Linked DNA regions of Homo sapiens: region 2 is linked to region 1. The links come from fine-mapping of genetic effects on gene expression. A gene starts in region 1. The other region holds a variant in brackets. All regions are shown on one strand. Distances are from middle to middle. Region 1 holds the start of YIPF3 (Yip1 domain family member 3). Region 2 holds the start of LOC124901522 (U7 small nuclear RNA).

Evidence for each region. PIP is the estimated chance that this variant, and not a neighbour inherited with it, causes the effect.
Region 2: its variant is the best candidate, but not a certain one, in a credible set for the expression of YIPF3 in whole blood (INTERVAL, PIP 0.75).

The regions. Positions count from the first base shown.
Region 1 is chr6:43,504,204-43,520,165 of GRCh38, reverse strand. YIPF3 (Yip1 domain family member 3) reads left to right here and starts at 3,240. Exons shown (of 9, transcript NM_015388.4): 1 at 3,240-3,439; 2 at 4,071-4,277; 3 at 4,465-4,571; 4 at 6,533-6,578; 5 at 6,715-6,807; 6 at 6,966-7,097; 7 at 7,292-7,405; 8 at 7,603-7,726; 9 at 7,851-8,334. The coding sequence starts at 3,359. The coding sequence ends at 7,999. It overlaps POLR1C (RNA polymerase I and III subunit C), which reads right to left and starts at 3,077. Exons shown (of 9, transcript NM_203290.4): 1 at 2,988-3,077; 2 at 2,789-2,860; 3 at 726-833; 4 at 328-460; 5 at 1-100. The coding sequence starts at 3,056. It overlaps TJAP1 (tight junction associated protein 1), which reads right to left. Exons shown (of 11, transcript NM_001350562.2): 11 at 13,612-15,405. The coding sequence ends at 14,311. It overlaps LRRC73 (leucine rich repeat containing 73), which reads left to right and starts at 9,820. Exons shown (of 6, transcript NM_001012974.4): 1 at 9,820-10,652; 2 at 11,246-11,406; 3 at 11,746-11,868; 4 at 12,240-12,340; 5 at 12,488-12,710; 6 at 12,858-13,198. The coding sequence starts at 10,381. The coding sequence ends at 12,928. RefSeq lists an enhancer at 2,951-3,500 and silencers at 9,663-9,952, 9,973-10,242.
Region 2 is chr6:43,529,874-43,545,835 of GRCh38, reverse strand. It overlaps XPO5 (exportin 5), which reads left to right. Exons shown (of 32, transcript NM_020750.3): 21 at 11,829-11,929; 22 at 14,261-14,357; 23 at 15,012-15,148. It overlaps LOC124901522 (U7 small nuclear RNA), which reads left to right and starts at 3,600; the gene lies at 3,600-3,661. It also overlaps a transcript of POLR1C not described here, the pseudogene RPS2P29 and LOC124900224. RefSeq lists silencers at 3,482-3,531, 12,334-12,534. The variant G/T (reference allele first, on the strand shown) is at 6,466.

The DNA.
Region 1 (15,962 bases):
TCGTTGGGGTCAGAGGAATCTTTAGCAGCATGGGGGTTCCGAGTGCATCTGACCTGGAGACGAAACTGTAGAGTATCTATCTCTGTGCCTTCTTCATCTCCTGCACAAATGGAGGGAGCTCCTAAGAACTAGTAAACGTCTGAGTGCCAGCACTATGCTGAATGCTTTACGTGTTTCCCATTTAATTATGGCAAACTTGGGAGACAAGGCAAGTGTTCTCACAGATGAAAGACACTGATGTACAAAGATAAGTAACTTACCCAACATCACAGTCAACCAGGATTTGAACCCAGATAGTCCACTTCTCCCAAAATTTCATTTTCTCACCTTGGTTCCGATACTCAAAAAGACGGGGATCAGCATGAATGGGAATGAGCCCCAGACGGTGAGCAAGAATCTCATCCTGAACAATGGATGTATTATTGTACACCAGGACCTTCTCCACAGCCATAGTTGGCACCTGCCCAAGGAAAAATAACCACTTATCTGCAAAAACCCAACAGACCCCCTACCTATCCCCGTAACCCCAACCTCCAGAGGTAGGGAGCTATCTCTCTTCCTAGAATGTTTAATGAGAAATTTACAAAGAATGAGAAGGTAAAATGCTCAGCAAAATTCCAGGAAAATTAAGGAGGGAAGGACAGCTTGAGACACTTAATTCTCCAAGTGAGGTGTCAGTGCAGTTCCCAAAGCAACTCCAGCCTTGTCACCATGCCTGCCAATACCTCAGCTAGCAGAATTCGTCGAAAAGCATTGGCAATGGCTGCGTCAATTCCCACCATGTCAAACTCCAGTGAGTTTTCATCCATGTGTACTACATCCACACGGAAATTCTAGAGGGACAGGAAAAAACATTTAAGTGAAATCTGCTCTCTGTGTAATATCTCTTCATACCTCCCCCTTAGATAATTCCCTCAAGTATTATCCTCTCATCCAAAAACCTCCCTTTGCCCAAATGTCTCTTATTAAATATTCTATCTCGCCCAGTGTTTTAAGTTTCATGAAAAGTCTCCATTTTTGTCGTCCATTCATTAAAACCCTATGCAATATGGCTTCCAACCAAACCATCCACAGAAGCTATTCTACTGAAGAACAGAAACTACCATAGTGCTTAGTTTTGTTGACACTACTCAGTCCTCTTACTAGACTTCTGTTATGCTTGGCATTGATTAAAAAACCCCCTCCTGGCCCGGCACAGTCACTCACACCTGTAATCCCAGCACTCTGGGAGGCTGAGACGGGCAGATCACAAGGTCAGGAGTTTGAGACCAGCCTGGCCAGCATGGTGAAACCCCGTCTCTACCAAAAATACAAAAAATTAGCTGGGCATAGTGGCGCATGACTGTAGTCCCAGCTACTCGGGAGGCTGAGGCAGAACTGCTTGAACCCGGGAGGCGGAGGTTGCAGTGAGCCAAGATCGCGCCACTGCACTCCAGCCTGGGACATAAGAGTGCCTCATGAAAAGCAAAGAAAAAAATCTCCTCCTTTTTTGAACTATTCCCCTGGTTTCTGAGCTCTGAGCTCCACTCTTCTTCCTTCTCTGATGATCGACTTCCACCCATCTCTAAATTTGCCAGGTTCTTGTCTCTCTCCCAGGTCACCTTAACTGTACTAACAGTTTTAGCAACTATCTGTTCTGACAACTCCCAAAATGTTATCTCACTTCTGATCTCATTTCAAGCATGCAGTCTTCTAGCCTGCTAGATTTCTCCACATGCAGAAAACAATGCATCATCATTCCCGTTCCCCAGACCCATTTCTCCTCTCAGTAAATGATACCACAATGCATCAAAGCAGTTCCCAAGCCAAAAAGTCATTTTATGCTACCCCCACAGCCTTTACCAAAGCAATCATAAATTTACCTTCTATTCTACCTTTGCTCTATTTCTACCATCAGTCTTAGTTCATGTCTTCAACCTCAGCTTCCCTTACAACAGATCTGCCTGCTCCATATGATCCTCCTCAAACTCATTCCCTCCCAGCCACCAAGGTTGCAAATCTCATCATGTCTGCTTAAGAACTATTCAATCTCCCTATCATCAACAGTGCCCAAGACACACTTCAACCTTGCCTACCACTCATGCCAGAACTACTTGGACATGCCCGGAGCACACTTCACACAAGCCATAATTTTTTTTCAAGCATTAACCTTTTTCATTGTTCATACTTTATTCCTTGTATCAACAGGTTAAAAAAGTAAAATTTTCCCAAGCACTGATTTACAGATCATGTTTATAAGCTGCACGCAAAGGTCAGTTGCCTAAACGGTAACATTCAGTAATCTATTTAAATGCAATTTTAACCCTTATTTTAAGCTAAGTGAAACAATACAAAAGACTAAATACACACAAAACCTGTATATCCTGAACTTCACTGACTTGAAACAAACCCTTCATAATTTAACTCCTGTTCTTTTTTACTTACCATTCAAGGCTCAATTGAGATGTACCCTCCTCTTGAAATGTTAAGTACCTCTCCGCCCCTCTTCCTGGTCTCAGCGTAATGCTCCCCACCCCAACCCTGCCGTCTTCATCGCTATCAACCACCTTCACCATATTACACTAGATTCACTGTTTATACACACCATTCCTCAACAAGACTGAACATCTTTGCAGAACTGGGTAGAAACCGTGTCTAATTTGGCCTGTAAACGGAGCGTCTAGCACATTGCTCAACAAACTTACAAACGGAGCGACCCCCAAGAGCAGCTTCTGAGACAGACACAGGCTGCTCAGACCACAAGGTCTGGCCTTCATAACCCTCCCCAGACAACTCCGGCCCCACTTACCTTCTCGAAGCGGTCCTGGTCCCAGGCATCATCATAACCGGAATAGTTACCGGGAAAGTCAGTAGTATGGACCTAGAGCAAAGGGACGAATTTGTCCACGAAGGGACAGTGAGCCCACAGCTATCCCCACGCCAATCCCAAGACCCATCCCTGTTCCGCTCTCATTCCTCCCGCCCGAGCTCAAGGCCACAAGGCTTACATTGCGAACCCCAAACTCCCCCAGAACCACGCGGCTCCGCATTTCCTCCACCGCCTGAGAAGCCGCCATCTTCAATCTCTCCACGAGACTAGAGGTTCTATCTCGCGCGTGCGTCCTAGTAGCCCTGCTCCGTCTCCGTGGCAACGCACCGCCTCCTGGAATCTTAAATATCGCGAGATTTTTCCCCGCCCCCGTCCACGTCCCCAGCTTCCGGAAGTTGCTTTTGTCCAAACATCCGGGCTTCTCCTTTTTGTGTTCCGGCCGATCCCACCTCTCCTCGACCCTGGACGTCTACCTTCCGGAGGCCCACATCTTGCCCACTCCGCGCGCGGGGCTAGCGCGGGTTTCAGCGACGGGAGCCCTCAAGGGACATGGCAACTACAGCGGCGCCGGCGGGCGGCGCCCGAAATGGAGCTGGCCCGGAATGGGGAGGGTTCGAAGAAAACATCCAGGTAATGGCCCCAAGGCACCAGCTGCCAGCAGCCGGAGGGCCGGCGATGTCCAGAAGTGTCTTGGGGATTCCCCCTCTGGGCCTGGAAGTCCGCTCCATTTACAAAACTCTCTTCTTTGGGTCTTCGTGCACACTAAAGTCAGTGGGATTAACATTGACCTGAAAGGGCCAGACTACTACTCCAGCCTGAGGATCTCGGGTTTCAGGGCCCGCCCGAGGCATTAGGAAGAAGGTATTCTTGGAACAAGTTAGGAGGTTGGTCGGGGTAAGGCATGGAGTGGGGTTGGGTGGGATTCACTGGCATTCGCTGAAAACATACTATGTGTATAGTTTTGTTTGGGGCTTAGGAAAGAAGGAAATGGGCACTTTTTCAGCCTTTTAGTCTTTGATAGGTAACATAGGAGAAAGACATGAATGGAAGACTAGTAGGTTTCCCAGGCTAGAAAAGATAGCCAAAGCTAGAAACCAGGCGTTCTGAGAGCATATGAGGGGGAATGGAGTGGCATGATCTGTAGTGATTCCAAGCCGTATCCTCAGCAGTGGAAGAACAAAGCCCTAAACCCTGGGATGAGCAGAGGACTTAATGGATGGAACAGAAAAGTCCTGCACTCTAGGAGCCATTGTCTTCACAGGGCGGAGGCTCAGCTGTGATTGACATGGAGAACATGGATGATACCTCAGGCTCTAGCTTCGAGGATATGGGTGAGCTGCATCAGCGCCTGCGCGAGGAAGAAGTAGACGCTGATGCAGCTGATGCAGCTGCTGCTGAAGAGGAGGATGGAGAGTTCCTGGGCATGAAGGGCTTTAAGGGACAGCTGAGCCGGCAGGTGGCAGATCAGGTAAGCAAGATTGAATCCTCTGCAGGTAGAAAAGTAGACCTAGGTATGTCCCGTGTTCTGGAATTGGTGTTGGTGATGTTCGCCCCAGGTTGTCCAGTTAGAACCATGTAGAAATCAAACGGAAAATAGGCAACAGGATCTAGAACCAACAGTACCACAATACCTATGCCCATCTTCCTTACTTCAGATGTGGCAGGCTGGGAAAAGACAAGCCTCCAGGGCCTTCAGCTTGTACGCCAACATCGACATCCTCAGACCCTACTTTGATGTGGAGCCTGCTCAGGTGCGAAGCAGGTGAGGAGCCTTCTCTTGAAGAAGCTTCCCTCCTAACACCTAGACCTTCATGCACACTACAGTCAGATTTCAAGCCCTGGGCTCTGATGGGCTCCCCGTCTTCATGACCCCATCACCTCTCATCACTGCACCTGTCACTGAAACAAGTAATAATAGCACACCATCTTCCTCTTCTTTTCCATCTAACTGACTACTCATCTTCCCTCAAAACCTACCTCAGATGTCACTTCCTCTGTTCCACATTCCTCAATCCCATCCCCAGTTTGTTCTCTCCTGGTGTTCCTATAGAACTCTGTGCTTGCCAGCCGGGCATGGTGGCTCACGCCTGGAATCCCAGCACTTTGGGAGGCCGAGGCGGGCGGATCACAAGGTCAGGAGATCGAGACCATCCTGGCTAACACGGTGAAACCCTGTCTCTACTAAAAATGCAAAAAAAATTAGACAGGCGGGTGCCCGTAGTCCCAGCTACTCGGGAGGCTGAGGCAGGAGAATGGCATGAACCTGGGAGGCGGAGGCGGAGCTTGCAGTGAGCCGAGATCGTGCCACTGCACTTCAGCCTGAGCAACAAAGTGAGACTCCATCTCAAAAAAAAAAAAAAAAGAACTCTGCGCTTGCCTCTAATAGACAGCACTTCACCACTGCTATCCTTTCTTATTCCTGGAATCTTCCTTCCAGAGACCAACAGCATCTCAAAAGCAGGCTCTGTCTTGTTTATCTTTTTATTCCCAGCACCAGAACAGTCTCAGAATCAAAATATCAGGGCATAGTTTTTGAGTGACTTTTCAAGAACTAGATTTAATCCTGGCTTGGTTTTTTTGTTCATCCTTTAATCAATGCTAATCAAATACCCAGGACCACTCAGCAGGTATTTATTAAGCATTTGCTCTGTGCCAGACGCTAAACTAATCGTATCTGGTTCAGTGGTGAAGATAGATGGGAGCCTTGCTCTTGAGTGCAGTTACAGTACAGTACTCATTCTATGATGGGGCACACAGGAGGGATATGTGAGCCAAAGCAGGTTGGTGGGTGGGACAGGACAAGTTTCCCAGAGGAAGTAAAACCTAGCTAAAATCCCAGGTATGATTAGGAGCTAGCCACTTGAGAGAAGAGGGAAGTGACTAAATTTTCATACCACTTCACATATATTTTTCAAGAAAATACTCGAAAGTGCCTGGAGGCACAGATAAGCAGGAAGAGGAGGCGTTTTTACTATTCCCTCAGTAACACCTTTCATTCTAAACTTTCCATCTAGCCGGCTAGACTTTTCCCAGGGCTTCCTCATTATAACCCTGAATTCTGGGTACTCTCTGCTGAGGTCTGCCTGTCTTGTCATGTCTTTGTTTTGTTTTGTTTTGAGATGGAGTCGCACTCTGTCACCCAGGCTGGAGTGCAGTGGCGCGATCTCGGTTCACTGCAACCTCCGCTTCCCGGGTTCAGGCAATTCTCCTGCCTCAGCCTCCTGAGTAGCTGGGACTACAGGCGCCCGCCACCATGCCCAGCTAATTTTTTGTATTTTTCGTAGAGACAGGGTTTCACCATATTGGCCAGGCTGGCCTCAAACTCCTGACCTTGTGATCTGCCTGCCTCGGCCTCCCAAAGTGCTGGGATTACAGGCGTGAGCCACCGCGCCCAGCCTGCCTGTCTTTTCAAGGGGAGGGGGCAGACGGATACATGGTCGGGCCCTCCTTCAAGGCCCAGTAGGGCTGAGTTCTCCATATAGCTGCTGTTTCAGTCAGCTAAGTTTCAGAGGGTTGTCCTTCCTGGAAGTAACTTTAGGGGCAAGGAAATGATTTCCTCATTCCCTATCTGTCTTTACTACCCTGTTCTACCGTGTCATCCAACATGTCTTCTAGGCCAGGCCCCATTCCCTGGAGTTAGAGATGAATAAAATTCAGGCCTTGCCCTCCAGAACCTCATGGCCTTGTGCTGCCTTTGCTTTAATCTCTCCTCTCCTCTCCCAGGCTCCTGGAGTCCATGATCCCTATCAAGATGGTCAACTTCCCCCAGGTGAATAGAGGGTGGCATGTCTGGAGAGCCGGGGGAAGCACCAGGGCAGAGGGTGGGACCACCAGGCAAATCCTGGGAAGCCATAAACAGATGAGCTGTTGTACCCTCCAGCCTGAATGAATTGGTATATTGACAGAAAATTGCAGGTGAACTCTATGGACCTCTCATGCTGGTCTTCACTCTGGTTGCTATCCTACTCCATGGGATGAAGACGTCTGACACTATTATCGTAAGCAGGACAGACAACTTTGGGGGGGTGGCTGCACTAGGTTGAAAGCTGCCTGAGGATACAATGGTGGAGTGAGACAGGAACAGCCCCTGCGGAAGGCCCTAGGTGAGGCTGAGATCAGAGGCCTCCTAGGACTAAATAGAGCCTTCACCCCACAGCGGGAGGGCACCCTGATGGGCACAGCCATTGGCACCTGCTTCGGCTACTGGCTGGGAGTCTCATCCTTCATTTACTTCCTTGCCTACCTGTGCAACGCCCAGATCACCATGCTGCAGATGTTGGCACTGCTGGTAAGGAGCCAGGTGTGGTGGGCAAGAGTGATGTTAAAAAGAGTAGCCAGGCCTTGGTCGGCATCTGTCCTGGGGCCCCAAAGCCTGGAATGGGAGGAGTAGGCCAATGGACCATGTGTTTCCCAGGGTCCCCATGAGGGGCCAGAAAGCAGCCCAACCTGAATGATTTTCCTCTCCACCATCCTCCTTCCCAGGGCTATGGCCTCTTTGGGCATTGCATTGTCCTGTTCATCACCTATAATATCCACCTCCACGCCCTCTTCTACCTCTTCTGGCTGTTGGTGGGTGGACTGTCCACACTGCGCATGGTAAGCTGGGCAAGAGGCTTCCAGGGGTGGGCTGTCCTCCCAGGGAGTTGGGGAAGACAGCCTGGAGCTGTCCATCTCACAAAGAGCCCTAAATGGGAGGGAAGAGCCCAAAGATGGTTCTGCCCTGGGTGGGGGTGTCTTGTCCCCACTCCTCACTTTGGAGCCAGGCCCTTTGAGCTGTATTCTCATGGTCCTAGGTAGCAGTGTTGGTGTCTCGGACCGTGGGCCCCACACAGCGGCTGCTCCTCTGTGGCACCCTGGCTGCCCTACACATGCTCTTCCTGCTCTATCTGCATTTTGCCTACCACAAAGTGGTAGAGGGTAAGTGGCAGGAAGGTCTGGGTGGGGGAGAATGGGAAAGCAGCTGCCTAGAGCAAGAAGCTAGATATGATGGCTGGTGGGCTGGGCCCATCTGATCCTCGCTCACCTTCCATCTTCCTTCCAGGGATCCTGGACACACTGGAGGGCCCCAACATCCCGCCCATCCAGAGGGTCCCCAGAGACATCCCTGCCATGCTCCCTGCTGCTCGGCTTCCCACCACCGTCCTCAACGCCACAGCCAAAGCTGTTGCGGTGACCCTGCAGTCACACTGACCCCACCTGAAATTCTTGGCCAGTCCTCTTTCCCGCAGCTGCAGAGAGGAGGAAGACTATTAAAGGACAGTCCTGATGACATGTTTCGTAGATGGGGTTTGCAGCTGCCACTGAGCTGTAGCTGCGTAAGTACCTCCTTGATGCCTGTCGGCACTTCTGAAAGGCACAAGGCCAAGAACTCCTGGCCAGGACTGCAAGGCTCTGCAGCCAATGCAGAAAATGGGTCAGCTCCTTTGAGAACCCCTCCCCACCTACCCCTTCCTTCCTCTTTATCTCTCCCACATTGTCTTGCTAAATATAGACTTGGTAATTAAAATGTTGATTGAAGTCTGGAACTGCAGCGGCTGATCCAGTGGTCCTCCCTGTCATCCCGCTTCCTATATACTTTCCTACTCAGTCAACAGTGGTAATGTCATATGTTCCCTTCTTCATATCCTCACCCAGGCAAGATAAAGGTGGGACAGGCCAGACTACATAGAAGGCAGTGATTGAATATCACACCTGACCCATGAAGCGGCAGGGAGGCCTCAAGCACAAAAGCCATAAGCCTGATGGAACACTGCAGCCAGCTTGAGTCTGGGCTCAGCTGCTCTCTTGGGAAGCCAAGGAAGCAGTGACAATTGAACAAAACATCCCGACTTAAACCCCGTGTCAAAACAAGGATCTTCTGCACCTGGGCATTGTGTTGATAATTTTCCTGTGGAGCTCTTAATTGAAGCCAAATTTGGCTTTGCCTTGGTGGTACTGGGGCCAGCTCCTTTTAGTTTTTCTGTCTTTCCTCTTAAAACCAACCACCACTCCTAACATAGCACCATCCACCCCCACCACCTCTTTAATATGCTCCACTTAATAAGTTAATTCAGGTGGCTAAGAGTGGGAATAGGGCCTTTGACCTCCCTTCACTATATTGAATATTATATTTTATGTAAAATAATCATCTTAACACTAGTAAATCTGGGTCAGCAGCATCTATCCCTCCTAACAAAGGGACAAACAGAGGTGCCCTTCATTTGTCCTGCGTTACACAAGTGAGTCCCCCACCACCCTGGCCAGAGGACAAAGTTGAGACAGCACCGCCTGCACCGTGCAGTGTGGCTCAGCCGCCTTCACGTCCTCACCAGTGCTCCAGGGCCCTGGCCCTGGCACCTTCTTTGTATTGGCTGCCCCAGTCTCGCGGCACGGACACACCCTCAGATGTCAACAGTGCCCTGCGTACCTGAGAAGGTGTGGCACCAGGACCTTGCATCTATCTGAGGCTCCCCTGCCCTAGGGACCCTATGGGGTACCCTTCTCCCCAGCAGCTCAAGCTGGCTCTGCCCAGCCGTGGCCCCTGGGGCCTCCCTGATGAGGCCGCCATCTTGGCGAGGAGCAAGCGGGGAAGTCCCCATGGGCCGGGATCACCACGCACGCTGCGCCTCGAGTCACGGGGGCGGGAGCGAGGCGCGGCGCGGATGAAAGGGCCCTGGGGCCTTCCAAATAGGAGGGAACAGTGCCCTGGATTCCGGCGGGGGTATGGACCTTAGGAACGGGGAAGGATGGAAGAATGGGCAGAAGCAGCAGTAACCGTGCCCAACGCCATCTCCACGGGGCGTGCCTCCATTCCGCTCCCCGTCAGCCCTACCCACTCAGCCCTGCCGCCTGCCGCCTGCCAGTTGGCTGACCCCACTCCCAAGGGAAGAGCGGCCTATCGCTCCCAGCTCCTTGCCCCGAACCACCCAGTGTACGCGAACCTCGCGGGCCGGCGTGGCCTTGGCCGGGCAGGGGGCGGGGCGAGCGCCGGTGACGCGGCCGTTGCCATGGGAACTCGCCGCCCGCTCGCTCTCTGGAGCTGGAGCCGGAGCTGCCGCCAGCCGCCCGCCTCAGGCTCTCTCTGCCAGCCGTGCGGCCAGGCCCGCGGGGTGGTCGGGGGGAGCCGGGCGGCAGAGAAGGAGGGAGCGGGTACGGCCTCCTAGCCGAGACCGGTAAGCCGAAGCCCTTGAGCCGCTCGCTGCCGCTGCCGCCGCCGCCGCCGCGACCGCGAGGGACAAGGACAAGCGCCGAGCAGCGCCTGCCCAACCCCCGGAACGCGCACCCGCCCCAACGCCCAGACACGGACCGTGCGGGCCGCCCCCGCCCCAGCGCCGCCCCACTTCAGCCCGGCCCGCGCCCTGGACGCCTCCGCACCTCTGGCCGGCTCCGGCTCAGTCCCGGTAGCTCTTCTCCGCCCCCGCCGCAGCCTCCGCCGCAGCCGCAGCCTCCGCCACAGCCGCCGCCTCCACCCCCGGCCCCACTCCGCCCGCGACCCCTGCCGGGGCCCCGACCCCGGCCCTATCCCCGGCCCCGCCCGCGGCCCCACCAACCTCCGTTCCGGCCCCGTACCCGGAGGCCCAGCCGTGGGCACGATGCTGCCCAGCTCCATCCAGATTTCGGGGGAGCCGCTGTCCGGCGCCGAGGTGCGGGACATCTGCCGCGGCCTTCGCGACAACGCCGTGCGCCTGCTCTCACTGCGCGGCTGCCGCCTCTGCGACCGCGACTTTGGCCGCATCTGCCGGGCCCTGGCCGGGGCCACGTCCCTGGCGCAGCTCAACCTTAACCTGGGCGTCGTGTCCAGCCCCAGCCGCATCAAGCAGCTGGCTGAGGCTCTGCGGACCAACCGCTCCATCCAGTCCCTCTTGTGAGTGCGCCCCCTCGCAAGGGGGTCCCGGGCACTGCACCCTTCCATACACTCCCCTGGCACCTCCTGTTCCTCCACACTCCTTCCAGTACCATCCTACCTTCACATGCCTTATGCACATACACCGTGCCTCGGCCCATGCCTTCACAGCACCCTCCAAGCACATGCTTGGACTTTGCACGCGCGACCCTAGCCGTGTTGGGATACCCACCAGTTCCTGACATGAGGTGGGGGCCGTACCTCCCCACCTAATCATCTGCATTTACTTCACTGGGGCAGCTCCTTGGTTCCCAAGGGGGAATATCCCCGTGGGGACGAGAGCCCTGCCCACTGCAGAGTTCCGGTCCACCACCCACCCACCCCTTCTCTGCCCCTCCCTGTGCAATGTCCTGGATCCCTGCCCCAGAAAACAAACCGAATTCTCCCTCTATCTGTATTCCCTGAGAATCTAGAACTTTCCTTCTCCTTTTCCAGGCCTCTCAAGCGCTGTGACTGCCCTCCCCATACCTAGGGCTGACAGAAGTGAAAGTGCCCCTTTCCCATGTAGATAGTGCGGAGGACTGCAGTAACCCTGCTCTCTCACTCTCCTCCAGCCTGCATGGGAGCCCCCTGACAGATGCGGGGCTGGCCTTGCTGAACCCAGCCCTGGCCCTCCACCCTGCCCTCGTGGCTCTGGACCTGGGGGACTGCATGCTGGGTGATGAAGCCATCAACCTCATCTGTGGCCTCCTGCCCCCAGATGGGGCCAAATCTGGTGAGCAGGACCCTGTTGAGGGCTTGGGCTAGTGTGGCAGTGATGAAAATCGAAATGCAGAGGGAAGGGGGTGTGGCCCCAGAGCTCTGATGATGTGGGCGAGAACATCTTTCTACTCCTCTCAGGAAGGGGCAGGACGGGGGGCAGCATGGAGACTCAGGAATCCAGGCTGGGGCAGGCAGAGGAAGCATGGGCCTCCTTAATGGCTCTTGACCTCTATGGTGGGGGTAAGGTGGTGCCCAGCCACTAGGGACACCCCAGAGACACAGGGATTGTGGGGAAGGGCTGGAGGAGGGCTTAACCCTCCCTATTCTGGTTTCTTGCTATGATGCTGCCCAGGCTTGAAGGAGCTAACGCTGAGTGCCAACCCTGGCATCACCCCTAAGGGCTGGAGCCGCCTTGCCATTGCCGTGGCCCACAGCTCCCAGGTCCGCGTCCTCAATCTGGATTACAACCCCCTGGGTGAGGCTCAAGAATACCCCCTTGGGCTGTCACTGCCTCATGCCCTATCCAAGAGCCTGGGACCATCAGTTGACATGGTAACCCGTACACTGGGAGAGGGAAGAGAAACGGGAGCCCCCAGGGGTCAAGGAGATAGCTTTGTGGCGGACCAGGTGACCAACAAATAGATCAAAACATCAGTCACCACCCGTGGGCCTAACTTGCTTCGTGCCTTCACTCACCAATCACAATGATCCCTTCCTGACCACCACCAATTGTCCATGTTTCCTTGGCCAGGGATTAGTATCTAAAGTTGTTAAGGCAATGGGGAAGCTATCTGTAAGGATTAGCAGGCATGTGTATGAATGTGTGCACGTGTGTTGTCTCCCCAGGTGACCATGTGGCAGGAATGCTGGCTGTAGCTGTGGCCTCTAGTCGTACCCTAGAGGTCCTAGACTTGGAGGGCACAGGGCTCACCAACCAGTCAGCTCAGGTGGGAAGTCGTCATGTTTGGGCACGGCCAGGGGATGGGGTGGAGGTTAGTTTATGTGTCTGATGACATACCTAAGGCATGGCAGGTTGAGGTCTGAGGACCTGCCTTAACTGTGTTCATCCTTTTCCATATTCTTCCCCACTTCAGACCCTGCTGGACATGGTAGAAAATTACCCCACAGCTTTGCGGAGCCTGGTGTTGGCTGAGAACAGCATTAGCCCAGAGCTGCAGCAACAGATCTGTGACCTCCTCTCTGAGGGAGAGGAGGAGGAGGAAGTGGCAGGAGGGGCTGGCGACACCCAGGAATGGGAGAGAGGGCGGGAGCCTGCTGCCCACCAGAGAGGCAGCAGCTCCTGGATGTGCCCCAGCGGTAAGAACCCAGAGGGTTGATCAGAGCCAGGTCTGGAAGAGGCTCGGGACAAGGGAGAGTGGGTGTGCAGAACCTAGGCTCTCACCTATCTGTGGTCCCCATTGGAGGAAGGAATGGTGGTCTGAACACTTCTCTGCCCTTCCACAGATCCCAGCTCTCAGATGGTGCTAATGACGTCAGGACTAGGGGACAGTCTGTTGGCTGAGACCGAGATGTGACTCTCCACTGGGCCTCTGCACACCATTTCACTTATCTATGTCCCGAGCACCTTGCCCCAGATATCAGGGTCAGGCCCTGGGACTTGGGAGGGAACTGGGGTCAGGGGCTGCATGGGGGCTCTGGCAGCTCCTGGCAGTGTGGTGGGAAGGAAGCTCTGGAAGCTGTGACTGAGCAACAGCCTTGGGGGGCACTTGAACCCACGGCAATGCCTTTGAACTTGGCAGCTCTGGCTGCAACCCGCTGGCTCGGAAAAGATTTTATGAACTCCACAACCTGTCGTGTGGCTGTAGTCACTTGGGGCCGGCAGTAGGGGAGGAATTGGAACTACCAGTAAGCACCACTAGGGGGCAGTAGCATCGCACAGCCCAAGCTCTAAGCTGCGTGACCTGGTCCAGGATCTCAAAATAGGCCTGGCCAGGCCTAGAACCCAGGCCTCTGAGGCAACACCTTACACTAGCCCCATAAAGATATGGTCCCTGCCTCCGAGGGAAGACTCAGGAACCCTGCTAAGGTTACTTAAGGTGCCCCCTTTCCCGCTCCCTGATGCTCTGTGCCTAGGGAAACCCTAGGCAGAGTGGGGCGAGGGGGAGTCACTAGCCGACTAGGATGAGACTAGGACTGGGAATACTTATGAATGGGGAGAAAAGTGGGAGAGGGGAGGTCATTAAGACAAGTTAGGCCATACCAGTAAAATAGTTTTATTTGATTTTAAAATAGTCATCAATGTGAAAATTTCTCAAAGCTTAAGAGTAACAGTCTAGAGCCAAGGTTGGGAGTGGGGGCCAGGCCTCACACAGAGCCCAGCTTGAGGCCCCTGAGCCCCACCCTCCTTTCCAGAGGGAGGGAGGAGACAGCTGAGGGGGCCCTGAATCAGTCCTCTCCCTCGTCCCCAAGGCCAGCTGTGCCAGGCCCCTGGAGGGCAACAGCTCATGCGGAGGACTGGGGGGGGAAGCAAACAGGTAGGAAACGGAAATGAGGTTAACAATTACACCATCACCCCCAAAAAAAAACAAAATAACAAAACTTGTGACTATGAAAGGATGGAAGATGAATACTGATAAACTCCTCAGCTCCCCAGAAAAGCCCAGTCTGGGCTGGGTTGGGCTGATTGGAGGAAAGGTCTTGAGACCCAACTGCATGTTACCTCTGAAGAATAAATATTCTAAGAAAAAGGGAAAACCATGAGGCAAGCTGCTGCAGTCAGTCAACGCAGCTGACAGGCCTGGCATGGCCCACAACCTGACCCCATCCACACAGGAAACAGCTGTGCGGGTCTGGATAGAGGAGAGGTCAAGGGCTTGGACTGGGGACCCTGAGCTGCCAAGGTGTGGGGACTCCTTGCAGTCCTGGTGCAGCAATGGCAGGAAGGCCAGCAGGGGCCCTAGTTGAGCAGGTTGCCCTGCTCCTGGGCCTGGGTCAGGCTGTCCTTGCGGTGCAGGTGGTGAACCCCCATCCTCTTGGGGCTGCGCTGGGGGCGACTGGAGCTGGGGAGTGGCCAGGCCCTGCCCTCGGTGTGGGAAGTGCCTGGCCCCTCCTCTGTGCCCCTGTTAATGGGCAGCAGGCTCTGGCGCTCTTCCTCAGGACTGATAGGCAGGTTCAGCTCTTCTTCCTCCCTGGGAAAGCCAGAGTCAGGTTCTGTGGGTAGCAAAAGCTCACTCTCTTCGGGTCGGGCAGAAGGTGCCTGGACCACCTCATCTCTGTCAGCGGGGCTATGGGCAAAATGGCGCTGCAGCTCAGGGAGGGCATCGCGTCCAAAGGCTGTGCGCTGGGCCACAGCAGCAGGTGGTGGAGTACGGTCCACAAATGCCCGCTGCCAGCTGACCAGCAGGTCCTCTTCAGAGCTGGCAGAGCTAGCTGGGGCACTGAGTGTTAGGGGTGCTGGGCTGGGCTGGTGGTGGGGTGAGGCCTGGGCTGAGGCAGGGGTGCTGGGCACTGGGCTGGGGCGGGCCCGCTCACTCCCCTCCTCTACCAGGCTCAGGGAAATGGCCTGGCGGGTAGCGTAAGTGCAGTTGGGCAGGGGGCTGTTGCGGGGGATCCGAACCTTATCCTCAGAGAACTCTATTACCCTGCGGCCAGGATACAGTGGGTGTGGTGGAGACGGGGTTGGGTAGGGGTTCAGCTTCTCAAAGGCTGGCAGGGGCAGCTCTTCCTCCGGGGAGCCCCTGGCAGTACCCAGAGAGTGGCACTCCCCATTGGGTTGTGGGGTGGGGCTGCCAGGGGCCGGGGGACTGGCTGGATCACCTGGGACACCCTCACTCATGTCCACATGCACAAAGACATCCTCAGCCAAGGGGCGCCCGGCGCTGCCTGACTGGGCTGAATTGAGCAGTAGAGACTCCGGCTTCTCTAACACTCGGGCAATGACTGAGGTAGGCACCACAGCCCCTGGGGCTAGGCTGGGAGCAGGACCTGGGCTGGCGGCCTCTTGACCACTGTGCAAATGTTTCCGAACCATGTCCTGTAGCTCACAGGGCAGCTGAGGTAAAAGAGCAGGAAAGAGAGACATCAATGATCGCAGCCAAAGATAACTTGACTCATGGCGAAAGTAATGGCTCCCACCTTTAAGTACCTCTGTGTACTCAGCACTCTGCTATCTCCTGTTCTTACAGCATGCCAGTGTGTATACCCTCACTTCACAGACACATAGGCCTGGAGAGGGGAAGACAACTCAAAGCTTTGGTTAACTTGGCCAAGATTTAAACCCGGATCTGCTGCTGCAGCCAGCATGTTCTCAAACTTCTATCTCCCAGCTTCTGCCCAAACCATACTTAAGTTTGGAGAATCTGCATAGACCAGTAGCCTTAGAAATACCTCTACTTCTGGGCCGGGCACAGTGGCTCATGCCTGTAATCCCAGCACTTTGGGAGGCCGAGGCGGGTGGATCACGAGGTCAGGAGATCGAGACCATCCTGGCTAACACGATGAAACCCCATCTCTACTAAAAAGACAAAAAAATTAGCCAGGCGTGGTGGTGGGCGCCTATAATTCCAGCTACTTGGGAGGCTGAAGCAGGAGAATTGCTTGAAGCCGGGA
Region 2 (15,962 bases), 26 kb before region 1:
AGATATTTGATGACTCAGGGATGGTCTCTAAATGAAAAGATAGGTTTTTTTATATAATTCAGTTATTGGCCAAAGAGTGCTTTTTGTATCTCACAGGATTGGTTTTTTTTTTGTTTGTTTGTTTTTTTGAGACAGAGTCTCACTTTGTCACCCAGGCTGGGAGTGCAGTGGTGCAATCTTGGCTCACTGCAACCTCCGCCTCCCAGGCTTAAGCGATTCTTCTGCCTCAGCCACCCAAGTAGCTGGGACTACAGGTGTGCACCACCACTCCTGGCTAATTTTTGTATTTTTAGTAGAGACAGGGCTTCGCCATGTTAGCCAGGCTGGTCTCGAACTCCTGGCCGCAAGTGATCAGTCCACCTCGGCCTCCCAAAGTGCTGGGACTCCAGGAGTGAGCCACCACACCTGGCCTCTCACAGGATGTTTAAATTACATTGTTAGAGCTCTGTTTCAGTACTTTTTGGCCCCTTCTCCAAGGAGTAAAAGCAGTCTCAACGGGGCAAACCAAATTATTCATGTCGCAGTGAAACTCTCCTGGGAATAGACACCCAAGACCTGAAGCCTGAGAACCAAAGATTTTAAGTTAATGTTGACAAATTGGAGGGCTGGAGTGTCTGATAAAGTTGTCATTGTGGACATGTCTGTGGAAATAGACAATATTTTGGCGGGGTGTGGTGGCTCACACCTGTAATCCCAGCACTTTGGGAGGCCAAGGTGGGTCAATCACTTGAGGTCAGGAGTTTCAGACCAGCCTGGCCAACATGATGAAACCCTGTCTCTACTAAAAATACAAAAATTAGCTGGGCATGGTGGCACATGCCTGTAATCCCAGCTACTCGAGAGGCTGAGGCAGGAGAATCGCTTGAACCCGGGAGGCGGAGATTGCAGTGAGCTAAGATCACGCCACTGCACTCCAGCCTGGGCGACAGAGTGAGACTTCCATCTCAAAATAAATAAATAAATAAATAATATTTTCTTTTGATTTCTAAAGGAGGAAAGAGATCTCTGAAAAGAAGTAGGACTTGTACTGAGAGGGTTAAACATTTAGTCAAGAAGAGGCTTATTTCTATCGTGATGTTTTTATTAATAGAGATGGGGTTTTGCCATGTTGCCCAGGCTGGTCTCGGACAGCTGAGCCTGCTTCAGTCTCCCAAAGTGCTAGCATTACAAGTGTGAACCACCACACCCAGCCCCATAGTGATGTTTTTTAAAACCACAAGGTTCTTCTGCAGCTAGAGAAACGTGAAAGTGATGGAAATCATAGGGCAAGAAGCTAATCACCTAGACCTTTTTAGGCCTGTGGCCAGAATCTATGTGGCCAACCCAGACGTGGAAACAGGGTTCATTTCTGGTTGACTCTAGAGGCCACAAGACAACAGTATGATTATCTTTTTTTATATAATTTTCTTTTTTTAAAAAAGTATAATCTCTTTTCAATTTCTAGTCACCTTCCTATCAATCAGTAGAGGAAGATTCTCATGTGTTCACTATGTCTTTCTCCAGTTTTTTCCTCTATAAATTTACTACTCCTATTTTCTATAGAAAGACAATGGAAAGTGTATAATTGCTGTCGGTAGATAAGTAGGTCTTGAATTTATTTTGCAAACAAGACCTGTTCTGTCTATCCTTTCATTTAGGAGGCTAACAGCAGACTCAGCTTGACTTTAAGGACTCTATTTTCTTAGTCTTCAGATGGTTATCATTTTGATACTTTTCTAAGAGTTCAGTGCTTTTAGAGAATTCCAAAAATCAATCAAAAGGCATTTTGAAAAATGCCTAGCATGTAATGATAGAGTAGATTGCTTGAATAGTGTGTAGCTGGAGCTATTAAGAGTTTTGCTTTTTTAGTAAATTTTATTGGCTGGGCGCGGTAGCTCATGCCTATAATCCCAGCACTGTGAGAGGCCAAGGCGCATGGATCACTTAAGGTCAACAGTTCGAGACTAGCCCAATAAACATGGTGAAACCCCACCTCTACTAAAAATACAAAAATTAGCCAGGCATGGTGGCGGGCGCCTGTAATCCCAGCTACTCGGGAGGCTGAGGCAGGAGAATTGCTTGAACCTGGGAGGTGGAGGTTGCAGTGAGCCAAGATCACAGGGAAGAGTCTTCCCTGTCCCTGGGCAACAGGGAAGACTCCGTCTCAAAAAAGAAAAAAAAAATTAAATAAATTTTATCTTGAAGTGTAACATTTATGTAGAAAAGGGCTTAACTTGTGAGTGTGTGTAGATGAATTTTCACAAAGTGGACACATTCATGTAATCAGCACTCAGATCAAGAAGCAACTTTACCTAATACCTCTTTTCAGTAATTACCTGCCCCTCAAAGATAACTACTATTCTGATTTGTATTTATTTATTTATTTACTTACTTACTTACTTTTGAGGCACGATCTTATCCTGTCGCCCAGGTTGGGGTGCAGTGTTGCGATCACGGCTCACTGCAGCCTCGACCTCATGGGCTCAAGCAGTCCTCCCACCTCAGCCTCCTGAGTAGCTAGGACTACAGCCATGAGCAGCCATGCCCAGCTAATTTTTAACTTTTTGGTAGAGATAGGTTCTCTCTATGTTGCTGAGGCTAGTCTTGAACTCATGGGCTCAAGAGATCCTCCCAAAGTGCTGGGATAACAGATGTGAGCCACCTCACCCAGCCCACTATTCTGACTTTTAACATTTTGTCCAGGTTTTTGAACTTTGTGAAAATGAAATCAGAAGTATGCACCTTTTGGTGTCTGCCTTCCTTTCGCTCAATATTTTGTTTCTGAGGTTCATCCATGTTACTGCATGAATGTACTTGTGTTTTTTTTGTTCTCCTTGCTTGTATGATACTTCATTGTGTGAATATGCTGTAACTATTCAGCCTTGATGGACCTTTGGGTGATATTTTAATATTACATATCATGCTGCTGTTGACATTCTTATGTCAAATACGTTTTGTGAACATATATATATAATTTCTGTTGGATACACACATAGGAGTAGAATTCCTAGCTTATAAGAAATGTGTATTTTCTGTTTTTATAGATGCAACCTGCTTTTTAAAGTGGTTATACTAATTTATATTCCCACCAGTTATATGCTGGAGTTGGGAGTTTTAAATTACTATTTTTTGGCTGGGCACAGTGGCTCACGCCTGTAATCCAAGCACTTTGGGAGGCCGAAGCAGGTGAATCACTTGAGGTCATGAGTTTGAGACCAGCCTGGCCAACATGGTGAAACCCCGTCTCTACTCAAAATACCACCACCACCAACAAAAAAAATTAGCTGGGCATGGTGGCAGGTGCCTGTAATCCCAGCTACTCAGGAGGCTGAGGTAGGAGAATCGCTTGAACTTGGGAGGCGGAGGTTGCAGTGAGCTGAGATCATGTTACCGTACTCCAGCCTGGGCAACAGGGTAAGACTCCATCTCAAAAAAAAAATTGAAAAATAAATAAATTACTATTTTTTTAGTAGAGAAAAGTTTGCTTTAAGAATGTAGCAAGGTATTCATAGCACCTCCTGCGTCAAATAATCTGATAATAGAAGGTGTTGAAGCTGTGCTGTCCAGCATGGAAGCCACTTGCCACATGAAACTATTGAGCACTTGAAGTATTACTAGTCAAGTGTTACAGTACTTTCAGAATTGGTCTGGTAGGCTTTCCAGTTTTCTCTGGAAAGCTCCTTAGAGAAAAAAAATAAAAATTAAAAAATAAAAATGACTAGCCTGAATTGAGATGAACTGTAAGTATAAAATACACACTAGATTTCTAAAATCGGCCGGGTGCGGTGGCTCATGCATGTAATCCTAGCACTTTGGGAGGCTAAGGCCTTAGGCAGATCACTTGAGGTCAAGAGTTCAAGACCAGTGTGGCCAACATGGTGAAACCCCATCTCTACTAAAAATACAGAAATTAGCCAGGCGTGGTGGTGTGCATGCTTGTAACCCCAGCTACTCAAAAGGTTGATGCAAGAGAATCACTCGAACCCAGGAGATGGAGGTTACAGTGAGCTAAGATCGTGCCACTGCACTCCAGCCTGGGAGAAAGAATGAGACTCTATCTCAAAAAAGAAAAAAAGAAGTATTGGATTACTACAGTACTTACAAAATGAAGTACTGATAATTACTACACTGTGGATCAACCTTCAAAACATTATGCTAAGTGAAAGAAGCCAGACACAAAAGGCCATATGTTGTATGATTTCATTTTTATGAAATATCTAGAGACAGAAAGTACATTGGCGATTGCCTCAGGTTGGAGAGGAGAAGAAAGTGTAGATCAACTGCTACTGCTTAATGGGCCTGGCAGTTATTTTGGGGGCCATGGAAACGTTTTGGAACCAGGTAGAGGTTACTTATGCAACCCTTTGAAAGTATTAAATACCACTGAATTGTGAACTTTAAAATGGTTAGGTTTTGGTGGGGATGTTTTTTGTTAGTTTTTTAAAGTTTTGTGGGTACACAGTACATACATATATTTATGGGGTACATAAGATGTTTTGACACAGGCATGCAATGCATAATAATAATCACATCAATTAAAATGGGGTATCCATCCCCTCAAGCATTTATCCTTTGTGTTACAAACAATCCAGTTATAGTCAACTGCAGTTATGCTTTTTAAATGTACAATCAAAATTATTATTGACTATAGTCACCCTATTGTGCTAGGAAATACTAGATCTTATTCATTCTTTGTGGGTTTTTTGTACCCATTAACAATCCCTACCTTACCCCTAACCCACCACTACCCTCCCCAGCCCCTCTGCTAACCATCCTTACACTCTGTATGTCCATGAGTCGAATTGTTTAAATTTTTAGATTCCACAAAGAGTGAGAACATGTGATGTGTCTTTCTGTGCCTGGCTTATTTCATTTAGCATAATGACCTCCAGTGCTATCCATATTGTTGCAAATGACAAGATCTCTTTTTTTTTTTATGGCTGAATAGTACTCCTAAAGTGGTTAGTTTTATGTTATGTGAATTATGCCTCAATTTTTTAAAATCTTAATAAAAATAAAGCTGGTTCTTTGAAAATACTAGTGATAACATCAGTAAATTCAAAAGCTTAAGAAAAATGGGGCTGGGCATGTTGGCTCATGCCTGTAATCTCAGCACTTTGGGAGGCCACAGCAGGAACATTGCTGGAGACCAGCCTGGGCAACGTAGCAAGACCCCATATCGATTTTTTAATTTATTTTTTTTGAAACGGAGTGTCACTCTTGTTGCCCAGGCTGGCATGCAAAGGCATGATCTCGGCTCACTTCAACCTCTACCTCCCAGGTTCAAGCGCTTCTCCTGTCTCAGCCTCCTGAGTAGCTGGGATTACAGGTGTGTGCCACCATGCCTGGCTAATTTTGTTTATTTATTTATTTATTTTGAGACGGAGTCTTGCTCTGTCGTCCAGGCTGGAGTGCAGTGGCGCCATCTCGGCTCACTGCAAGCTCTGCCTCCCAGGTTCACGGCATTCTCCTGCTTCAGCCTCCCAAGTAGCTGGGACTACAGGTGCCCGCCACCTCGCCTGGCTAATTTTTTGTAATTTTAGTAGAGACAGGGTTTCACCGTATTAGCCAGGATGATCTTGATCTCCTGACCTCGTGATCCGCCCGGCCTGGCTAATTTTGTATCTTCAGTAGAGACAGGGTTTCACCATGTTTGCCAGCCTGGTCTTGAACTCCTGACCTCAGGTGATCCCCCCTCCTTGGCCTCTCAAAGTACTGGGGTTACAGGCGTGCGCCACCATGCCCAGCTAATTTTGTATCTTCAGTAGAGACAGGGTTTCATCATGTTGGCCAGGCTGGTTCTCAAACTCCTGATCTCAGGTGATCCGCCCATCTTGGCCTCCCAAAGTATTGGGATTATAGGCGTGAGCCACTGTGCCCAGCCCCGTCTTCTATTTTTAAAAATAAAATATTTAAAAATGGATAATTTCCAGGGAAAATGTAACTTATTCTAACTCAACAAGATAGAAAACCTAAAGAGATATAACTTCATATTAATTATATTGGTAGTAGTTAAATTAGACCAAAAAACTCCAGGCCTAAATGATTTTACATGGGAGTTCTCCCAGACCTTCAAGGAACAGATAATTTATCTCTTAGACAAACTATTCCCAAGAATAGAAAAATGTAGCTTCTTCTCCGAGAAAACACCAAATGGCGGATGACGCCGGTGCAGTGGGGGGGCCTGGAGGCCCTGGTGGCCCTGGGATGGGGAACCGCGGTGGCTTCCGCAGAGGTTTCGCCAGTGGCATCCGGGGCCGGGGTCGCAGCCGTGGACCGGGCCGGGGCTGAGGCCGCGGAGCTCGCGGAGGCAAGGCCAAAGATAAGGAGTGGATGCCCGTCACCAAGCTGGGCCGCTTGGTCAAGGACATGAAGATCAAGTCCCTGGAGGAGATCTATCTCTTCTCCCTGCCCATTAAGGAATCAGAGATCATTGACTTTTTCCTGGGGGCCTCTCTCAAGGATGAGGTTTTGAAGATTATGCCA[G/T]TGCAGAAGCAGACCCGTGCTGGCCAGCGCACCAGGTTCAAGGCGTTTGTTGCTATCGGGGACTACAGTGGCCACGTCGGTCTGGGTGTTAAGTGCTCCAAGGAGGTGGCCACCGCCACCCGTGGGGCCATCATCCTGGCCAAGCTCTCCATTGTCCCCGTGCACAGAGGCTACTAGGGGAACAAGATCGGCAAGCCCCACACCGTCCCCTGCAAGGTGACAGGCCGCCGTGGCTCTGTGCTGGTGCGCCTCATCCCTGCACCCAGGGGCACTGGCATTGTCTCCGCACCTGTGCCCAAGAAGCTGCTCATGATGGCTGGTATCGATGACTGCTACACCTCAGCCCAGGGCTGCACTGCCACCCTGGGCAACTTCGCCAAGGCCACCTTTGATGCCATTTCTAAGACCTACAGCTACCTGACCCCCGACCTCTGGAAGGAGACTGTATTTACCAAGTCTCCCTATCAGGAATTCACTGACCACCTCGTCAAGACCCACACCAGAGTCTCTGTGCAGCAGACCCAGGCTCCAGCTGTGGCTACAACATAGGGTTTTTATACAAGAAAAATAAAGTGAATTAAGCGTGGGAAAAAAAAAAAGAAAAATGTAGTGCTCCATAACTCATTTTATGAGGCTTATTTATTTTGATACCAAAACCAGACATTAACAGTACCAAAGAGGAAAATTATAGGCCTAAATCACTTGTAAACATAGAGACGAAAATCCCAAATCAAAAGCAATATGGAGCTAGTAATAAGTCTTTTAATATAACCACATTTCCATTGTTATATCTCAAAATACTACCAGTAATTCAATATCCAGTATACAATCAGTATTCAAATATCACCGAATGTTTTCCTTTTTTCTGTTTATCCACACAAGGTTTATATATATTTAAGATATCTCTTAGTCACTAAATTAGGCTTAGCGTGGTGCCTCACGCTTGTGATCTCAGCAGTTTGGGAGGCCGAGGCAGGCGGATCCTTGAGGCTAAGAGTTTGAGACCAACCTGGCCAACATGACAAAACCCCATCTCTACTAAAAATTTAAAAAAGTAACCAGGTGTGGTGGTGCGCACCTGTAGTCTCAGCTACTTGGGAGGCTGAGGCACGAGAATCACTTGAACCCAGCAGGCGGAGGTTGCATTGAGCTGAGATCACGCCATTGTACTCCAGCCTGAGCGACAGAGCAAATCTCTGTTTCAAAAAAAAAAAAAAAAAAAAAAAAAAAAGATGTCTCTTAGGCTCTAAATTTATAAGTTCCTTGCCTTTTTTTTTTTTTTTTTTTTGAGACCATCTTGTTCTGTCACCCATGCTGGAGTGCACTGGTGCTATCTCAGCTCACTGCACCCTCCGCCTCCCGGGATCAAGCAATTCTCCTGCCTCAGCCTCTCGACTGCCTCAGCCTCTCGAGTAGCTGGGATTACAGGTGTGCGCCACCACGCCTGGCTAATTTTTTGTATTTTTAGTAGATACAGGGTTTTGCCATGTTACCCAGGCTGGTCTCAAACTCCTGAGCTCAACTGATCCACCTGCCTCAGCCTCCCAAAGTGCTGGGATTACAGCCGTGAGCTACCATGCCTGGCCCTCTTTTTCTTTTCAATTTATTTGTTGAAAAATGTGGACTTGTATTTCCAGAGTTTCCCCTGGTGAAATTTTGATGATTGCATCTCTGGAGTATTGTTTGATCTTGTCTACTTTCCTTTATTTTTGTTATTTTGTTACACGTGAATATGTCTAGAGGACATATGGCACTCTGCAGCCTGAGGACCAAATGTAAGTCTCCACATGTTTGTAAGTAAACTTCCGTTGGAACATACCTTGGCCATTCATTTACCTACTGTTTATGGCTGCTATTGCGCTTCAATGCAGAGTTGAGTTGTCGAGGACAGACACCATATTGCCGGCCAAGCTTAAAACATGTATGAATGTGACCTCTGGTCTAGAAAACTGACCTCATACCAGTTCAGTTTTTTAGCAGATAATCCTTTGTAGATGATGATGGGTTCAACACAATAGTAAAGGTTTAGCCTTTAAAAGACTCCCAGGTATGTATTACAGGTTGATCTATGACAGAAGTAATGAAAGTTAGAAAAAGATGGCTGGGAATAGTGGCTCATGCCTATAATTTCAGCACTTTGGGAGGCCAGGGCAGGAGGATCTCTTGGGGCCAGGAGTTTGAGACCAGCCTGGGCAACACAGACACTTTCTCTACAAAAAAAAAAAAAAAAGTTTTAATTATTCACGTGTGGTGGTGCACACTTATAGTCCCAGCTACTCGGGAGCCTGAGGTGGAAGGGCCACTTGAGCCCAGGAGTTTGAGGCTGCAGTGAGCTATGAACACACCACTGCAATCCAGCCTGGGCAGTAGAGTGAGACCCTGTCTCTTTAAAAAACAAAAAACAAAACAAAAATCAATTATTCAATGCTGGGACAGTTGGCTTTCTATGCAGAGTTGAGTTGTCGAGGACAGACACCATATTGTCTGTTTCACCGTGTTAGAAAAAACAATTAGATTCCTACCAGCCACCACACACAGAAAAAATTTTCAGGTGTTTTAAAACCCAAAAAGTAAAGCTGCTTTTTTTTTTTTTTTTTTTTTTTTTTTTTTTTAGATAGAGTCTCACTCTGTCGTCCAGGCTGGAGTGCAGTGGCGCGACCTTGGCTCACTGCAACCTCTGCCTCCCGGGTTCAAGCGATTCTCCTACCTCAGCCTCCTGAGTAGCTGGGATTTACAGGCGTGTGCCACCATGCCTGGCTAATTTCTGTATTCTTAGTAGAGACAGGGTTTCACCATGTTGGCCAGAGACTGGTCTTGAACTCCTGACCTCGTGATCCACCCACCTCGGCTTCCTAAAGTGCTGGGATTACAGGCATAAGCCACCGCATCTGGCCAAAGTAAAACTTCTAGACCATATTTACAGCATGAGGTTAGTGAATGACTTTTTTTTTTTGTCGAGTTGGAGTCTCACTGTGTTGCGCAGGCTGGAGTGCAGTGGCACAATCTCGGCTCACTGCAATTTCCGCCTCCTGGGTTCAAGCGATTCTTATGCCTTGACCTCTCAAGTAGCTGGGATTATAGGCATGCACCACCACACCCGGCTAATTTTTATATTTTTAGTAGAGACAGGGTTTCACCATGTTGGCCAGGCTGGTCTCAAACTCCTGACCTCAGGTGATCCGTCTGCCTTAGCCTCCCAAAGTGCTGGGATTACAGGCATGAGTCACTGTGCCTGGCCAGGGTAGCGAATGACTTTTTTTTTTGAGAGGGAGTCTCGCTCTGTCACCCAGGCTGGAGTGCAGTGGCACGATCTTGGCTCACCTGGATTCAAGTGATTCTCCTGCCTCAGCCTCCGGAGAAGCTGGGATTACAGGCATGCACCGCCATACTCGTCTAATTTTTATATTTTTAGTAGAGACAGGGTTTCACCATGTTGGCCAGGCTGGTCTTGATCTCCTGGCCTCAGGTGATTCTCCGGCCTTGGCCTCCCTAAGTGCTGGGATTACAGGCGTGAGCCACTGCGCCCGGCCTAGAATGACTTTTTTTTTTTTTTTTTTGAGATGGAGTCTCGCTCTGTCACACAGGCTGGAGTGCAGTGGCGCGATTTCAGCTCATTGCAAGCTCCGCCTCCCGGGTTCACGCCATTCTCCCACCTCAGCCTTCCGAGTAGCTGGGACTACAGGCGCCCGCCACCATGTCTGGCTAATTTAGCTTTTGTATTTTTAGTAGAGATGGGGTTTCACCATGTTACCCAGGATGGTCTCGATCTCCTGACCTCGTGATCCACCGCGCCCGGCCTCTAGAATGACTTCTTAAGCAAGAACAAACAGAACAAACTATGGAGGCTTAAACATGGTCTGAAAGATGTTTTCAGTTTGCATCTTAAACCTGTAGCTACCATGCCCGGCACCCACCACCACACCTGGCTAATTTTTATATTTTTAGTAGAGACTGGGTTTTACCATGTTGGCCAGGCTGGTCTTGAACTCCTGACCTCAGATGATCCACCCACCTCGGCCTCCCAAAGTGCTGGGATTACAAGCGTGAGCCACTGGGCCCAGCCATAGAAACACTTCTGTTTTTTGGGGTTTTGTTGTTGTTGTTGTTTTTTGAGACAGAGTCTCGCTCTGTTGCCCAGGCTGGAGTGCAGTGGCGCAGTCTTGGCTCACTGCAAGCTCAGCCTCCCGAGTAGCTGGGACCACAGGCACCCACCACCACGTCCGGCTAATTTTTTGTATTTTTAGTAGAGACAGGGTTTCACTGTGTTAGCCAGGATAGTCTCGATCTCATGACCTCGTGATCCACCCACCTCAGCCTCCCAAAGTGCTGGGATTACAGGCATGAGCCACTGCGCCTGGCCTTTGGGGGGTTTTTTTGAGATGGAGTCTCACTCTGTTGCCCAGGCTGGAGTGCAGTGGTATGATCTCGGCTCACCACAACCTCTGCCTCGCAAGTTCAAGCAATTCTGCCTTAGCCTCCCAAGTAACTGGGATTACACGCATGCACCACCACACCCATCTAATTTTTATATTTTTAGTAGAGACAGGGTTTCCCTATGTTGGCCAGGCTGGTCTTGAACTCCTGACCTCAGGTAATTCGCCAGCCTCGGCCTCCCAAAGTACTGGGATTATAGGCGTGAGCCACCGAGCCCAGCCTAGAATGACTTCTTAAGAACAAAAAGAACAAACTATGGAGGTTTAAACATGGTCTAAAAGATGTTTTCAGTTTGCATCTTAAACGTGTAGCCATCAGTTTGTTCAGTGGGGTCATTTCTGTGAGTAGGTAAGAGTGCTGTGGACAGCGGGTATATCAAGTTCACAGTCCTTGCTCCTTACTCAAAGCCTATAATTGCTCAGGTAGGTCATTTTGGTGGGGGACAGCATGTGTTGGGAATTGTGTTCCTCTATCAGGTCCAAACAGCTGTTGCAAGGTCCATGCTCTTGGAATTAAGACAAAACATTGAAAAATGGGGCAAATTACCACCTCCTCTGTGTTCCTACCTGTAAATCCACAGTGTTGCACACATTTCATTCCGTATCACTGGTGGTCAAAAAACTCCTGGGACCACCTCAGATTTAAAAGAATTTTGCTTTCTAGCTTTGGACTCTGATACTGTCCTGTGTCTTGGGGTTTAGTTCTCATGTTAATTTATCTTAGGTATTGTATACTAAGATAATTATATCTATACAAGTCTGTTCCCTCCTCCAGCGAGCATTCAGATATTTATACCTTCTTTTCTTTCCCCTGCCAGGAGTTGATGGGCAGATCTGTGTGAAACTGTAGTATCACTGGATTACAAGCAAAACCCACTCTTTCCTTCTGCATCAGATGGAAAAGCTCAATAGCATTCTTGTTTCTTTCAGAACCCACAATACATTATATGCACCAGAAATGCTAGCCAAAATGGCAGAGCCTTTCACCAAGGCTCTGGATATGCTTGACGCGGAAAAATCTGCTATATTAGGTAAGAAATGTAACCTTTTTTCTCCTAAGGTTTATCTTATCCCTAATGGATGTCCCCTTTTTTTGTTGTTTTTTAAGAGTCATAGTCTCTGTCACCCAGGCTAGAGTGCACTGGTGCAACCATAGCTCACTGTAGGCTCAAACTCTTGGACTCAAGCAGTCTTCCTGCCTCAGCCTCCCGAGTAGTTGGACCACAGGCAGATCACAACGCCAGACGAACTTTAAAATTTTTTTGTTGAGACAGAGTCTTGCTATGTTGCCCAGGCTGGTCTTGAACTCTTATCATCAAGCAGTCCTCCCACCATGGCCTTTAAAGCACTAGAATCCTAGTGATTACAGGCGTTCTTATGGGTTCCTTGAGCAGCTTCAGCCTATCTTGTGCTTCTTCCATCTTGTCTTGCACTGCCTTGACCATCTATTTGTTCAGAAATGCAGAATGTGGAGTTCCTATAAGCTCTATATGAACAAGTGTATTTACTTCATTATCTTAGCATACAGAGAAAATCGAAGGCAATTTATTTTTTTTCCCCGTTAACCCCTTCTTCAATTTAGCCAGTAGGTTGTGGTGGGTGTTACAGCCATTCAATTATAAATAAATCATGGCCTTTAACCTGAAGGATATTTGTATACTTTCCTGCCTCCTCGTGTGTGTGTGTGTGTGTGTGTGTGTGTGTGTGTGTGTGTGTGTGTGTGTAGATAGGTATCAAAGTTTTTAAAGGAATAGATTTTAAGCCATTTCCCAATTGTTACCTTTTTTGTTTTGTTTTGTTTTCTTGAGAGAGTCTCACTCTGTCACCCAGGCTGGTGTACAGTGGTGCAATCTCAGCTCACTGCAACCTCTGCCTTCCAGGTTCAAGTGATTCTCCCACAGCCTGCTGGGACTACAGGCATGCACCATCACACCCGGCTAATTTTTTGTATTTTTAGTAGAGACAGGGTTTCACCATGTTGGCTAGGCTGGTCTCGAACTCATGACCTCAAGTGCTCTGCCTGCCTTGGCCTCCCAAAGTGCCAGGATTATAGGCATGAGCCACCACGCCTGGCCTTCCAGTTGTGACCTTGTTAGGATACTGCTTTAATTCATTTTCCCATTGAAAATAAGCATGAAAATAACTGTGCAGTCATAATTGTGGTATTTGCTGTGAAGGAAAGTGGCAGGGCTCTGAGTGTTTATCGGGAGACCTAACCCAGTCTCAGAGGGAAGTCAGAAGGCTGACTCCCAATGGGGACTTGAAGGATGAGTACGAACTAGCTAGGTTAGGGGCATGAGGAAATGCTGGGCATTCTGGACAAACAGAATGGCAGGTATAAGATCTGAGGCAAGAGAAAAAGGCCTTGGTATGTCCAGAACATAGAGATGGTTGAATCATGTGGCTGGAGCACAGGGAGCTAGTCTGGGAATGTGGGATGAAGTTAGAGCTAGAGGCATCAGTTGTCTAAACCTTGTTCCCATCTCAGAAGCTTCAGGCTGGCTCACCATCACAGCCCCCATAGTTTGTCTTTGTCATCAGCTATAACCTGTGTCTGAGCCCGGCTGTGGTCAAGCAATCCAATGGCATTCCTCAGCTGTGAAGTTAGCCAAAGGAAGGATGTTAATTTGCCTTTCCAGAACTCATGTCTGTCTGTTTCAGCCTAGATAGTCCTGAATCTTTTCCTTTGACACCATTCCATTTAAGGGTTATGTTGCAGACACCAGTAAAAGTAGAAATTCCAAGAAATGTATAGCTATTAATATAAAAAGTAGGTGTTGCTTACCACACACCCCCATGCCATTATTCAAGTTAAGTCAGGAACTCCTGCTATAGAAATAAGTGGCCAACCAGAAATACTAGAATGGACAAACAGTTCCCACAGATAGCTTCTGACTATAGGACTCGAAATGTAAAACCTCTGATTACACTTAAAAATATAGATATTTTAAGGCAGTTTTTAATACTAAGGTAAGTGGGTTTCATTTTTAGCTGCTACACATCTTAGTGTTTTGTGTAAGATTTTGCTTAAAAAAGGGGTTTCATAACTTAATTGTGGGAGCATCCCCAGAGCTTTATGGAAAAATACTTTTGAGTTGTCACTTTTTTTGGTACAGGTTCCATCTGGGGGAAAAAAAAAAGCAGATAAAAGAGTACCCGGGTCTAAAGTCCTGGGTCCTTAAGTAGCTTTCACCTTCTCCTACCAAAAGAGTGCAGCAAATCACGTAGCCAACTGCTTTGCAGTACAGCACCAGACATGCACACATCTTCACCCCTGAACAACAGCTTCCTGCTGTAGAGTGTTGGCCAATTGAGACTCCTGACAGTGGAGCATCATGTTCTTGACCCGTATTTCCCTGTAGGATTACCTCAACCTCTCTTGGAACTCAATGACTCTCCTGTCTTCAAAACCGTCTTGGAAAGAATGCAGCGTTTCTTCTCTACCCTCTATGAAAACTGGTAAGGAACCAATGCTGCCTCTCCATATTTTCTTCCTCGATATGTATTGTATAGGAATGTCCATGGGTTGGACTTTTCATCTAGTGTACAGGTAAGGCGAGGCAAGAGTTTGATAGGAAACTTATCATTCTAGTGTTAAATAGAAATGAAAGCCTGCTTTCCTGCATTTGCTTTTTTTGTAATTGTCATATGAGCCTCACAATCCCAGCCTGCTTCATGCCCAACTTGTCTGTGTTTCTAGTGTATAAAATGATGAAACCCAAGTCGAAGCTAAAAGTGGTGGGGATTGCTTAGACCCTACACTGCTTGCGGCATACTTCTCATAGGAGTCGGGTGGCTGGATACTGGTTGTGGGTTGGGGAGGTAACTGGCCCTCATGGGCTTTGGCCTCACTAACCACTACACTAATCAGCCAAGCTAATGAGATCGTCCATTGTAAGTCCACATTAAATAGTAATGAAAGCTACTGCTGATCTCGGCCACCAACATCTGTCTTTAAAAAGATGCTGTATCTATAAGTTCTCTTAAGTAAATACAACTGCTCTTCTGGCTGAAAAACCTTATTGTAGGCTAGAAATGAAATTCATGGGACAGGGCTGGCAGTAACAGATGTTGGATTTGTCATTTTCAATGCTCTTTTTTTCCCCTTTACAGTTTTCATATCCTAGGGAAGGCAGGCCCTTCCATGCAGCAAGACTTCTATACTGTGGAGGACCTTGCTACCCAGCTTCTCAGCTCAGCCTTTGTCAACTTGAACAATATTCCTGACTACCGACTCAGACCCATGCTTCATATCCTTTCAAAAGTCTCTACATAACCCAAAAGGTCAGAAAATTAGAGAGAGAAACAAAACAGGTCACAGCAACCAGAGGGAAGAGGCAGAACTGGAAGGAAGAGATGAGATTATGTATCTAAGTGTATCATGTCATTAAAAACACTGGCAGATTGCAGGGAAAACATGAAGGCAGTCCAGATGGCCATAAACTTTTCCTTAGGGGTAAATTTTTACCTTCCCCCTTCTCGGAATTATTACAGATAAAACTTTTTTTTTTTTTTGAGACAGTCTTGCTCACTCTGTTGCACAGGCTGGAGTGCAGTGGTATGATCTCGGCTCACAGCTTCTGCCTCTCAGGTTCAAGCTATTCTTGTGCCTCAGCCTCCTAACTAGCTGTGATTACAGGTGTGCACCATCACGCCCAGCTGATTTTTATTCCTATTTTTTGAGACAGAGTTTTGCTCTATTGCCCAGGCTGGAGTGCAGTGGCATGATCTTGTCTTACTGCAACTTCCACCTCCTGGGTTCAAGTGATTCATGTGCCTCAGCCTCCCAAGTAGCTGGGATTACAGGCGCATGCTACTACGCCCAGCTAATTTTTTTGTATTTTTAGTAGAGACAGGTTTTCGCCATGTTGGCCAGGCTGGTCTCAAACTCCTGACCTCAAGTAATCCGCCTGCCTCAGCCTCCCAAAGTGCTGGGGTTACAGGTGTGAGCCACCATGCCCAGCTGTGAAAGATAAAACTTTTATCCCTTTTCTGTATTTTTAGAAGCACTTTTTTTTTTTTTTTTTTGAGACAGGGTCTCAGTGTTACCCAGGCAGGAATGCA